Regions from separate parts of the Homo sapiens genome. Here region 1 is linked to region 2. The links come from fine-mapping of genetic effects on gene expression. Tissue or cell type: whole blood. Region 2 holds a variant in brackets; the other region holds the start of a gene. All regions are shown on one strand. Distances are from middle to middle.

Evidence for each region. PIP is the estimated chance that this variant, and not a neighbour inherited with it, causes the effect.
Region 1: MTNAP1 starts here. The variant in region 2 is fine-mapped to the expression of MTNAP1 in whole blood (TOPMed, PIP above 0.99). The same link has a PIP of 0.9 or more in lung.

What each region holds. Positions count from the first base shown.
Region 1 is chr17:73,229,362-73,235,289 of GRCh38, reverse strand. MTNAP1 (mitochondrial nucleoid associated protein 1) reads right to left here and starts at 2,857. Exons shown (of 6, transcript NM_001351264.2): 1 at 2,801-2,857; 2 at 1,965-2,070. VCF1 (VCP nuclear cofactor family member 1) reads left to right here and starts at 2,896. Exons shown (of 4, transcript NM_001098832.2): 1 at 2,896-3,204. The coding sequence starts at 2,984. RefSeq lists an enhancer at 3,403-4,179.
Region 2 is chr17:73,185,025-73,190,952 of GRCh38, reverse strand. No RefSeq gene overlaps it. Among named protein-coding and RNA genes, the nearest start is that of COG1, 5.1 kb to the left of the region's middle. The variant T/C (reference allele first, on the strand shown) is at 3,559.

The DNA.
Region 1 (5,928 bases), 44 kb before region 2:
AGGACAGAATGGTAAAGAATAAAAAACTTAGGCCAGGAACCAAAGGTTATTTATTTATTTATTTATTTTGGAAACAGAGTCTCACTCTGTCACCCAGGCTGGAGTGCAGTGGCACAATATCTGCTCACTGCAAACTCCGCCTCCCAGGTTCAAGCAATTCTCGTCTCAGCCTCCCAAGTAGTTGGGACTACAGGGGCATGCCACCACGCCTGACTAATTTTTTGTATTTTAGTAAAGACGGGGTTTCACCGTGTCCGTGTTACCCAGACTGGTCTCGAACTCCTGAGCTCTGGCAATCCACCCACCTCAGCCCCCTAAAGTGCTGAGATTACAGGCGCGAGCTACCACGCCCACGCCCAGCCAAAGGTTACTGATTACAGCAGAGGTTTCCAAAGTGATAAATAGAATATGCACTAGGGTGTAAGAAGAAAATATTAGAATTACCACAATCAAAGAATGAGAAATGAAGCTCTACTAACATTTAGTAATATGCATATACACACACACACACACACAGATATACATAAAATGTATGCATAATGCACAAATATATACATGGCCAAGGACACAGTCCTGTTTTTCACTTATACTTTTTTTTTTTTTTTTTTGAGACAGAGTCTCACTCTGTCACCAGGCCGGAGTGCAGTGTCGGCTCACTGAAACCTCCATTTCCCAGGTTCAAGCTATTGTCCTGCCTCAGCATCCCGAGGAGCTGGGACTACAGGCATGCGCCACCACGCCAGGCTAATTTTTGTATTTTTAGTAGAGACGGGGTTTCACCATGTTGGCCAGGATGGTCTCAATCTCCTGACTTCGTGATCTGCCCGCCTTCGGCCTTCCAGTGTGCTGGGATTACAGGCGTGAGACACCACGCCTGGCCTACTTATAGTTTCTAGTACAACAGATTACTGGCAAATTAGTTTGACATCTTTGTTAAACATATACGATGTAAAAAATTAAAAAAAAAACATTTATACCATGTATATTTGTACCTGTTATTCTTTAGAGTCCAGAAAAGAAAATGTTTAATTCCAATGTTTAGTTGAAAGTTATTTCCTTTCTACATCTCTTATTCTTTCTATAAAGTTCCAGAGGGCAGGAAACATATCTATCCTGCACACAGCTGTATGTAAAAACCTAGCACTGAGCCTGGCATACAATATTTGTTCACTTAATTCTTTAGATATAAACGTTTAAATATTATTCAGTACTACAACTGATAATATCTTCTGACTACCAAAGAGATTAAAAAGGGTGACTGAAACCACTTACAAAATAGACACAATCTTCACCAATCCATTCAATAAAGCAACCAACCCACCTTATCCTGTACGAAGTCCTTCAAAACAAAACTGTTTTCTGCCAACAGATTACAGTAATCATTTTTACTTTGTTGTTGTTTGGTCTTTTTTTTTTTGAGATGGAGTCTTGCTCTATCACTCAGGCTGGAGTGCAGTGGCGCGATCTCGGCTCACAGCAACCTCAGCCTCCCAGGTTCAAACGGTTCTCCTGCCTCAGCCTCCCGCGTGGCTGGGATTACTGGGATTAAGGGCGTGCGCCACCACGCCCAGCTAATTTTAGTATTTTTAGTAGAGACGGGGTTTCACCATGTTGGCCAGGCTGGTCTTGAACTCCTGACCTCAGGTGATCCACCCGCCTCGGCCTCCCAAAGTGCTGGGACTACAGGCGTGAGCCACCGCGCCCAGCCTGCTGGGATTACAGGCGTGAGCCATCATTCTTTCTTTCTTTGGAGGTACACACTAACAGGATGAAAGCCACAGACTGTTTGTTTACAATAATACACACAAATGAAGCCAGTCCATGGACCTTCGGCTAACAACGTTAGGAAGGGCTTGACACCTGCTAGACGTTTCTGCCTCCACTCCACCTCACACTCAACCCTACTTGAAAGATCCCGGTACATTCCCACGATAACGTCTATACGTGGGTGTCTGTTTTCTTACCCGAGCTCCTCCAGGAGGATGCTAGTTTTGTGGGTGCTTCTCCCGGATCCCCATGCTTCCCCGATCACCGTTCCCGAGTGTGGCAGAATGAAACGTGAATGTCAGCCTGTGTAGGACACGATCAGACAGGTGACTTGGCAGCATGCACAGTGAGTAAACGCGGCACGATACTGAACCAAATAGAAACACAGGTTCCGGAAAGCAGAGAGTTAAGACCTCCCCAGCCTCCGGGCTCAAGGAGGACCTCAATAGTTCCACTAATCCTCACCCTCACCTCCGGCGCTCTCCAGCCGCCTTTCCCTCCTCCCGCTGCGTTACCAGCCTGCCCACCTCCCCGCACCCTTCCTTTCCCTGAAAGCTGTTCTGATTCTGCCAGCTGTTCTGATTCTGCGGAGTGGATGGGGTCGGCCCGGCAGCTCCTGGGTCAGGGACAGCCGTTCCCGCAGCCCCACCGAGGATTTCCTCCTGCGGTTCCAGGAAGACCCTCCGCCGGCCCCGGCACCCGATTCCCTACCCTCTCCGCTCAGGAGAGTCTCCCCCAGACTTAGAACGTGGGCCGCGGAAAACAAACCCGCCCTTGCAAGCTCCCCACAGAGCACCGTCCTCACCTCGGAAGACCTGAAAGCCCAGGCGGCCCCGGCGACAAGCCCCCCAGGGAAGCCCCCCAGGCCCCTGCCCAACCCCCGGCCAAGGAACCTCGTCAGGCCGTCTGCACCACTGCCGGATAGGTCCGCCTGTTTTAAAATATGTTACACGGATTCAACTCAAATACTTGTATGATATTATTATGACATAATTGAATTTATTTGAAACCTGGCTTGACTTTTATACCGTACCCTCCGTTGGCTGTGAACAGGCGAGCGCTTCTGCCACCCCAGGGGAGGTCCTTTCTCCCAGAAGCTCCTAGTCGCTCCTCCCGCTCCGAGCCCGCCTCTTCCCGTGGGCGGGGTTACCAGTCGGTGCGGTTGGGATGGTGCCACTGCGCAGCCGCGAGAGGGCGGTACCACGGCGGCAGCGACATGGGGGGGCGCGGAGCAGACGCCGGAAGTAGTGGTGGTACGGGTCCGACTGAGGGGTACTCGCCACCGGCTGCGTCCACCCGAGCGGCTGCGAGAGCCAAGGCCCGAGGGGGTGGGCGTGGCGGCCGCCGAAACACAACCCCCTCTGTTCCCTCTCTTCGCGGAGCGGCGCCGCGTAGCTTCCATCCGCCAGCTGCCATGAGCGAGCGCCTCCGTCCCAGGTGAGAGGGAAGGGACCCCCTTTCCATTCGTCGCCTGAGGATCTGGGAGATAGAGCCGAGGGGGCGCGCGAAATGGGGGTCGGAGCAAGAGTGGACCCGGCGGGGCTCCCTGTGGGGTGCACTGCGGGCCGGGGGAGGAGGGGAGAGGGATGCGCGAGTGATCGGATGCTTGGTTCCTGTGGGTAGCTGGAAGGTGACTCTCCGGGGTCCAGGTCTCCCGCCCCTCCATCTTTTTTCCCCCCTGTCTTTTCCTATTTGGAACGAAGTGTGATCGGTCCCGGAAGAGAGACGGTGGCCCTAAAGCTTTCCTGTCCTAAATTTAGGAGGGTGGGGGGATGGGATAAACGTCTCATCTTGGAGAGGGAGCCCCCAAAGGCTTTTGTGAGGGCACCGGGCGGGGAGCTGCCGGCTCCCCAAGGTCAGAAAGAAAGGTTGGGCTTAACCCCGCAGCAGGGAAAGATTCGGTTAGACCGAAGAACTTGTGCCCTGAACGGTTGTGAACACAGAAGGGCAGATGACCAAGGCGGGTTATGGATCTTCTCTTGACTGTGGCATTAAGAACAAGCTGGATTCTAAACTGTTTGGATTGCGGGGCCGTTTGACTCCGAAGGCGGGAGGAAAGATTTTATCGCGATGCACTCGCTACCTTCCCGAGGGAGCCTGGCCTCGGGACGCGGGTCTTAAATTAGGGGTTCTGTGCTTGACATGTACTACTAGAGTCCGGACTAAGTTGGGATTTCTTAATTTTTTTCTCTCTCTTAATTTCCTCTGCAAGAATGTGTGGAGGAGAAAGTTGGGAAAGGTTACCTCAGAATGCTCTTCCTGTTACGGTCTTTCCACAAGGATCCTTCTCTGAAATAATTATTTCATGTGATTGAAGTTCTCAAAAGTATTCTGAGTTTATTTGGTCCCATAGTGAAAACCTAGGGTTCCCCAAGCTGCTGCATTGGATTATTGATTTGGGTCATGTAGCAGGTGGAGCATAAAGCCTCTCCTTGTATAGAAAAGAAGAGTGGACTAAATTTGAAATTGGGGGCCCAATTACAGACATGCCATCGGAATTAGGAGCAAGATCTTTAGATACAGTGAATCTGACCCGACTGCCATATTATTCTTTCCCAAACCCAGTTTATACTTACGATATTCTCTTGGGGTGTCTCACATATCTGAAAAAAAATCTAAATATTTCCTACAAATAAAAATTCTACTGTACATAACTAATCTGAATGCATTTATACTGGCAGTAGATTCCTTTTATCTTGTACACAAATAATCTCAACATGTTTTAAAGAAGTTATTTGATTTGGACAGGCTTTTCCTGCCAGTGTTTAATGGAGTATGATGGGCCAGCTCTGCCAGCTCTAGGATGGTCTAAGACGGTGGTTTTTCGGCTGGGTGCGGTGGCTCACGCCTGTAATCCCAGCACTTTGGGAAGTCAAGGCGGGCGGATCACCTGAGGTCAGGAGTTGGAGATCACTCTGGCCAACATGGTGAAACTCTGTCTCTACTAAAAATACAAAAAAATTAGTTGGGCCTGGTGGTGGGCACCTTCATCCCAGCTACTTGGGAGGCTAAGGCAGGAGAATCGCTTGAACCTGGAAGGCGGAGGTTGCAGTGAGCGGAGATCACTGCACTCAAGCCTGAGCAACAAGAGCGAAACTTCCATCTAAAAAAAAAAAAGGGTTTTCAGGCTCTCCCACAGTAGATTGGATAGCCGCAGAGAGGTGAGTGTGTAGTGAGGGAGTCCCTGCTTATTGATTGATTGATTGGTTGATTGATTGACTGATTGATTGACAGAGTCTCACTCTGTCGACCAGGCTGGAGTGCAGTGGCCCCATCATGCCTCACTGCAGCCTCAACCTCCCAGGCTCAGGTGATCCTCCCACGTCAGCCTCCTGAGTAGCTGGAGCACAGGTGTGAGCTACCACACCCAGCTAATCTGTGTATTTTTGGTAGAGGTGGGGTTTCACTATATTGCCCAGGCTGGTCTTGAACTCCTGGGCTCAAGGGATCCACCCGCCTCGGCATCCCAAAGTGCTGGGATTACAGATGTGAGCCACCTCACCAGACTGGGAGTCCCTACTTTAACAGATCCTTTATCTCTTATATAGAGAGAATTTTTTTACAGTAAGAAAGAAAGAGTTCTGTTACTTTTTAAAATAAAGTTTGAAAACCACTAGTTTCCATACTCTTTTTTTTTTTTTTTTTTTTTTTTTTTGAGATGGAGTCTCACTGTGTCGGCCAGGCTGGAGTGCAGTGGTGCGATCTCGGCACACTGCAACCTCTACCTCCTGGGTTCAAGCAGTTCCCCTGCCTCAGCCTCCCAAGTAGCTGGGATTACAGGCACACGCCACCACGCCCTGCTAACTCTTTTGTATTTTTAGTAGAGACAGGGTTTCACCATGTGGGCCAGGCTGGTTTCGAACTCCTGACCTCAAGTGATCTGCCTGCCTCAGCCTCCCAAAGTGCTGGGATTACAGGTGTGAGTCACCGTGCCCAGCCCATACTCTTAAGATTATTTCTATGCCGAGTCTCTAGGAGATGACAGGAAGGTTGGAGAGAAATGAAATAATGCAACGTGATGGAATCAACCATCTGTAGAAGTAACAGATGCTAACTGGTAATCTGCACCTAGATGGTTAGGGAAGAATATAATCAGTTATAGGGGTGCCTGCTAAAATCATAACCTGGTCTGTGGCATTAATGCCAAAAATTGTAATCTGA
Region 2 (5,928 bases):
TGGTGTGGGCCTGTGGACCTGTAGTCCCAGCCACTTGACAAGAGGCAAGTGAGGCAAGAGGATCACTTGAGCCTCTGGAGGTCGAGACTGCGTCAGTGAGCCATGATTGGGCCACTGCATTCCAGCCTAGACAACAGAACAAGACCCTGTCTCAAAAAAAAAAAAAAAAAAAAATCGCAGGTGACAGGGGCGATTGCATTTTGGTGGTGGCACAGGTATCACCGGCAACATCCACTCCCTAAGGACAGCAAGGGCAGTGAACTTAGCTCCAGCTCCCAGCTGCTAATGCTGGCGGTGGTGCTGGTGGCAGCCGTGGGCACCCACAATGACGTCCTCGACAGAATCACCATGTGGTGTGCTCGTCTAGGTTTTAAATGTTCTGTTTCCCTTCCTTCCTTCCTGCCTGTCCCCTGAACCTGCCTCCCCATCTTTCCCAGAGATTCTATGAACTGTGCAGTGTCTTACTGATCAATTTTGTTTCTTTGAAAATCAAAATCGGTTTCCCTGGTTTGCCCTAGCCCTAACTGATATACACTGCACTAAGGTTCCAGCTCCATGAGAGTTTGGTTGAAGCCTTTCTTACAGCAAGGGGAGAAATGTCAACATATCAGGGATAGTGGGGGGCCCAGGGCTTTGTATGGGATGGTCCTTGCGCTTGTGCACAATACCTGTAAGCTCAGGTAGAGAAAAGACAAACTGGCCAGCTGTCAACACTGCAGTGTGTGTGTGTGTGTGTGTGTGTGTGTGTGTGTGTGTTCTGAGTCAGGTAGAGAAAAGACAAACTGGCCAGCTGTCAACACTGCAGTGTGTGTGTGTGTCTGTGTGTGTTTGTGTGTGTTCTGAGACAGGGTCTCACTGTTGCCCAGGCTGGAGTGCAGGGGTGCAATCACGGCTCACTGAAGCCTCCACCTCTTGGGCTCAAGCAATCCTCCCACCTCTGCCTCCCTAGTAGCTGGGATTAACAGGTGTGCACCACCATGCCCGGCTAATTTTTTAATTTTTGTGTAAAGACAGGGCCTCACTCTGTTGCCCAGGCTGGTCTCAAACTCTTGGGCTAGAGGGATCCTCCCACCTCAGCCTCCCAAAGTGCTCGGGTTACAGGTGTGAGCCACCTCACCTAGTCCAGAGTGTGGTTTGAAATCAGGGTGTTCCCTGCCTTTCCTCTGTATTTCCCTGGCCAAGTTCATCTGACTGGCCTGAAGATGCCACTGTTGTTCCTCTGCCTGCAGAACTGAGCACTGACAGAAGCTGTCACCTGACTGCCTGGTCACTGGAAAAGCTCCTGGCCCTGGAGGAAATGTGTCTTTAACTCTTTCCTCTCCATGGCTCCTTTCCTTGTCCTCTGCCTCCCAGGACAGCACCACCCCCTTCCTCTGCCTTCTGCATATCAGCTGGGACCATCAAAACCACGGATCAGGGGCAAAGACCTCAGCTGCCACAGCCGGGCCAGGCACTGTGCCGGGGACAGCAAGACAGAGATGAGAACCTGGAGCCTTTTTTTCTCAAGGTATTAGGAGGTACCTGAGTGAAAGAGGCACCTTTTCGCCTTATTGCCATAGTTTAGTTCTGGTATAGGGATGAGTTCATGTGTGTTGTGTGATAACCTTTAGCATCAAGCAACCTGCGTGAGTTCACACAGGTGCCTGTCTTCAGATCCCCTGGCTCTAGAAGTCCTTGATCTTTCTACATTGTCACATTATTAGCTTCAAAGAAAATTTCAGAATATCAAGAAACAGATGGCTCAAACAATTCTGAGCACCATTCGGATGGTACCCACACTGCTTCCTGATCTCTGCCTAAGGGTGGGTCTCTACAGTCAGTTTGGGCACCCAAGTTGGAGTGGCTATCCAGTGATTTGGGGGCAGATGACACATGGGGTGGCCATGCCTGGTAGCCAAGCATCTGCATGCTGGAGGGCAGTCTTTCAACACAGTGGATATATTCTGACATTTTAGTTTCTTTAGACCCATCGGCACACTCTTTTTTTTTTTTTTTTTTTGAGACGGAGTCTCACTCTGTTTCCCAGGCTGGAGAGCAGTGGCATGATCTCAGCTCGCTGCAGCCTTCCCATCCCAGGCTCAAGCAGTTCTCGTGCCTCAGTCTCCCAAGTAGCTGGGACTACAGGCGCGCACTACCACACCCGGCTAATTTTTTGTATTTTTAGTAGAGACAGGGTTTCACCATTTTGGCCATGCTGGTCTCAAACTCCTGACCTCAGGTGGTCTGCCCGCCTGAGCCTCCCAAAGTGTTGGGATTACAGGCATGAGCCACAGCGCCCAGTCCTGATCAGTATAGTCTTATTCAGAACATTGAGCAGACAGATTTCTCCTGTTATTTATTTATTTATTTATTTATTTGAGACTGGAGTACAGTAGCATGATCACAGCTCACTGCAGCCTTGACCTCCTGGGCCCAAGCGGTCCTCCCACCTCAGCCTCTGGAGTAGCTGGGACCACAGGAATGCACTACTACATCCAGCTAATTTCTAAATTTTTTGTAGAGATGGGGGTTTCACTATGTTGTCCAGGCTGGTCTTGAACTCCTGGCCTCAAGCCATCTTCCTGCCTCAGCCTCCCAAAGTGCTAGGATTACAGGTGTGAGCCACTTACCCAGCTCTCTTTACTTTTTAATAGAAATATAGAAAGCAAGCCAGGATAATGCCCAAAGTGGAGAGTTTCAACATTGCAGATTTTGTAGACACCACATGTTCTTTCCTTATGCAATCTGTGATCTAGCATCTGGGAGCATGGGTCCCATAGATCTTGGCTGTCAAACCAAATGATTCAATAAATATTTGCAAAATATGCCAAGCATATATGTTACATAATCACAGTGTCTACACAAAGGATGCACTGGAAAAGGCACAAGGGCTTTTCGCCCTCAGTTGTCTAATTGAAATAATAAAAGCAGTAAGACAATTCTCACCCATCTCATCTCACATCCACTTCAACCCTTCTTCCAATACCTCCTCTTCGATGTAAGGTGGCTGCGTTTTTGGCACGTCCATATAGACTCTGAAGAGTGAACCTGCTGAATCTTGTACCTGGGCCCTGATGATGTTGGACGAAGGGTCATTCTCTGATAAACTTAGGAGGGAATTAAAGCTGGGGATACCTGGAGAAGAGAAAATAAATGGGAGAGACAAAATTACCCAGGAAAATGAAAATAAGAAATTTAATTCTAGCTAAGCTAGGAGAAATGGAAAGGGTGAAAGCGAGAAGGAAGAAAAAAGGAAAGGAGAGGAAATTGGAAATTGATCACAAATTAACAAACAGGGGAGGAAAGAAAGGGAAATTTGATGTTGTAAGGGATACACTGTCAATAAAAGTAACATCCGGGGCAGGACAGGAGGTTGAATTCCACACTATTGCTCAGTGGGATTCGGACAGTTGGTGTTTGCTCTTGGCTGAGATGCCAATGGGATCAAGAGAGCCCTAATGTAGTTGTCTTGACATCTTATCTTTATGGCAGTGTTTATCAGCCTGTGTCTACTGGAGGTGACATTTGTGGTAGAAGCGGTGGTTATTTGACTTAACTGTTTGCAGATACCTGAGACTC[T/C]GCCTTCAGCAAACAGCCAGGCAGGCATGTTTGCAGAAACTCCTACATTTGTTCCTCCTGCGCCTATACTCCTGTCTTGTACATCTGGCTGCCTCCTTAGAAACTCCACTTGGGGCCGGCGACGGTGGCTCATGCCTGTAATCCCAGCACTTTGCGAGGCCAAGGCCTCCCAAAGGATCTCCTGAGGCCAGGAGTTCGAGACCACCTGGCCAATATAGTGAAACCCTGTGTCTACTAAAAAAATACAAAAATTAACCAGGCGTGGTGGTGGGCACCTGTAGTCCCAGCTACTCAGGAGGCTGAGGCAGGAGAATTGCTTGAACCCAGGAGGCAGAGGTTGCAGTGAGCCAAGATTGTGCCATTGCACGCCAGCCTGGGTGACAGAGTGAGATTCTGTCTCCAAAAAAGAAAAGAAACTCCATTTGGATGTCTAAGAGACATCTCAAATTTAACACATCCAGAATAACAACTCTCTTCTTAGTGTCCCTCCTAGGCCCTCACTCCAAGTCATTCCTATCTCAAGAAATGGCACCGCCCAGCTATTCATGGCTCAGACTCAGGAAGTCTTCCATCTCTCTCTCACTCTGCATACCCAGTGCTTTCACAAGCCCTATCGGCTCTTCCTCCAAAACACAGATGGATGAGCTTTTGCTATAAAGAGCCAGATAGTAAGTGGACTTTGCAGACCCTGCAGTCTCTGTCTTTTTTTTGGGGGGGGGGGGGGTGGCGGTAAAGATGGGGTTTGACCATATTGGCCAGGCTGGTCTCGAACTCCCGACCTCAGGTGATCCGCCCATCTCAGCCTCCCAAAGTGCTGGGATTACAGGCATGAACCACTGCACCCGGCCAACCTTGCGGTCTCTGTCAACACAATTCAGCAAGCCCGTTGTCGCCCCAAAGCAGCAACAGGCAGCACATCCGCAGGTGGGTGTGGCTGTGTCCAGTAAGACTTTACAGGCATCCCCCAGTATCCGAGGGGGATTGGATCCAGGACCCCTGTATATCTCCAAATTCGTGCACACTCAAGACCTGCGGTCAGCCTTGTGAAACCTGTGAGTATGAAAAGTGGACCTTCCATATACACGGGTTTTGCATCCCACAAATTCTCTATTTCCAATCACTGTTTGGTTGAAAAAAATCAGGAAAAAAATGGACCCGTGCGGTTTAAACACGTGTTGCTGAAAGGGCCAACTGTATTTAATAAAACAGGCGAAGGGCCCATTTTGGCTCTTGGACCATGGTTTGGTGACCCCTGCTCTTTTTCCATTTCCACTGGTCCAGGTTAACAGCTTCTCATCCTTTCTTTCTTTACTTTTTTTTTGAGATGGAGTCTTGCTCTGTCGCCCAGGCTAGAGTGCAGTGGCATGATCTCGGCTCACTGCAACCTCCACCTCCCGGGTTCAAGCGATTCTCCTGCCTCAGCCTCCCAAGTAGCTGGGATTACAGGCATGCACTACCACACCTGGTTAATTTTTGTATTTTTAGTAGAGACAGGGTTTCACCATGTTGGCCAGGCTGGCCTCGAACTCCTGGCCTCAAGTGATCCGCCTACCTCGGCCACCCAAAGTGCTGGGATTACAGGCGTGAGCTACCACGCCCGGCCCTTTTCTTTTCTTTTTTCTTTTCTTTTCTTTTTCTTTTCCTTTCTTTCTTCCTCTTTCTTTCTACAGAATCTTGCTCTGTTACCCAGACTGGAGTGCAGTGGCACAATCACAGCTCCCTGCAGCCTTGACCTTCCCAGGCTCAAGCAATCCTCCCACCTAAGCCTCCTGAGTAGCTGGGACAACAGGTGTGTGCCACCACAACTGGCTAATTTTTAATTTTTTTTTTTTGAGAGGGGGTCTCACTTTGTCACCCAGGCTGGAGTGCAGTGGCAGGATCTCAGCTCACTGCAACCTCCACCTCCAGGCTCAAGCAATCCTCCCACCTCAGCCTCCCGAGTAGGTGGGGCCACAAGCACGTGCCACTGTGCCTGGCTAATTTTTGTGTTTTTGGTAGAGAAGGGGTTTCGCCATATTGTCCAGGCTGGTCTTGAACTCCCGAGCTCAGGTGATCTGCCCTCCTCAGCCTCCCAAAGTGCTGAGATTATAGGCATGAGCCACTGCATCTGGCCTAATTTTTGAATTTTTTGTAGAGACAGGGTTTCACTGTGTTGCCCAGGCTGGTATTGAACTTCTGGCCTCAAATGATCCTTCTGCCTCGGCCTCCCAAACTGCTGGGATTATTGGCGTGTGCCACCGTACCCAGCCTCTACTTCTGACCCCTTTTAGTTCATGCTCCTTGCTACAAAGCCGACTTTTAAAAGTGGAAACCAGGTTTTGTGTATCCTCTGCTTAAAACCTCCCCCGGCTGCCCATCCCTCTTGGCCAG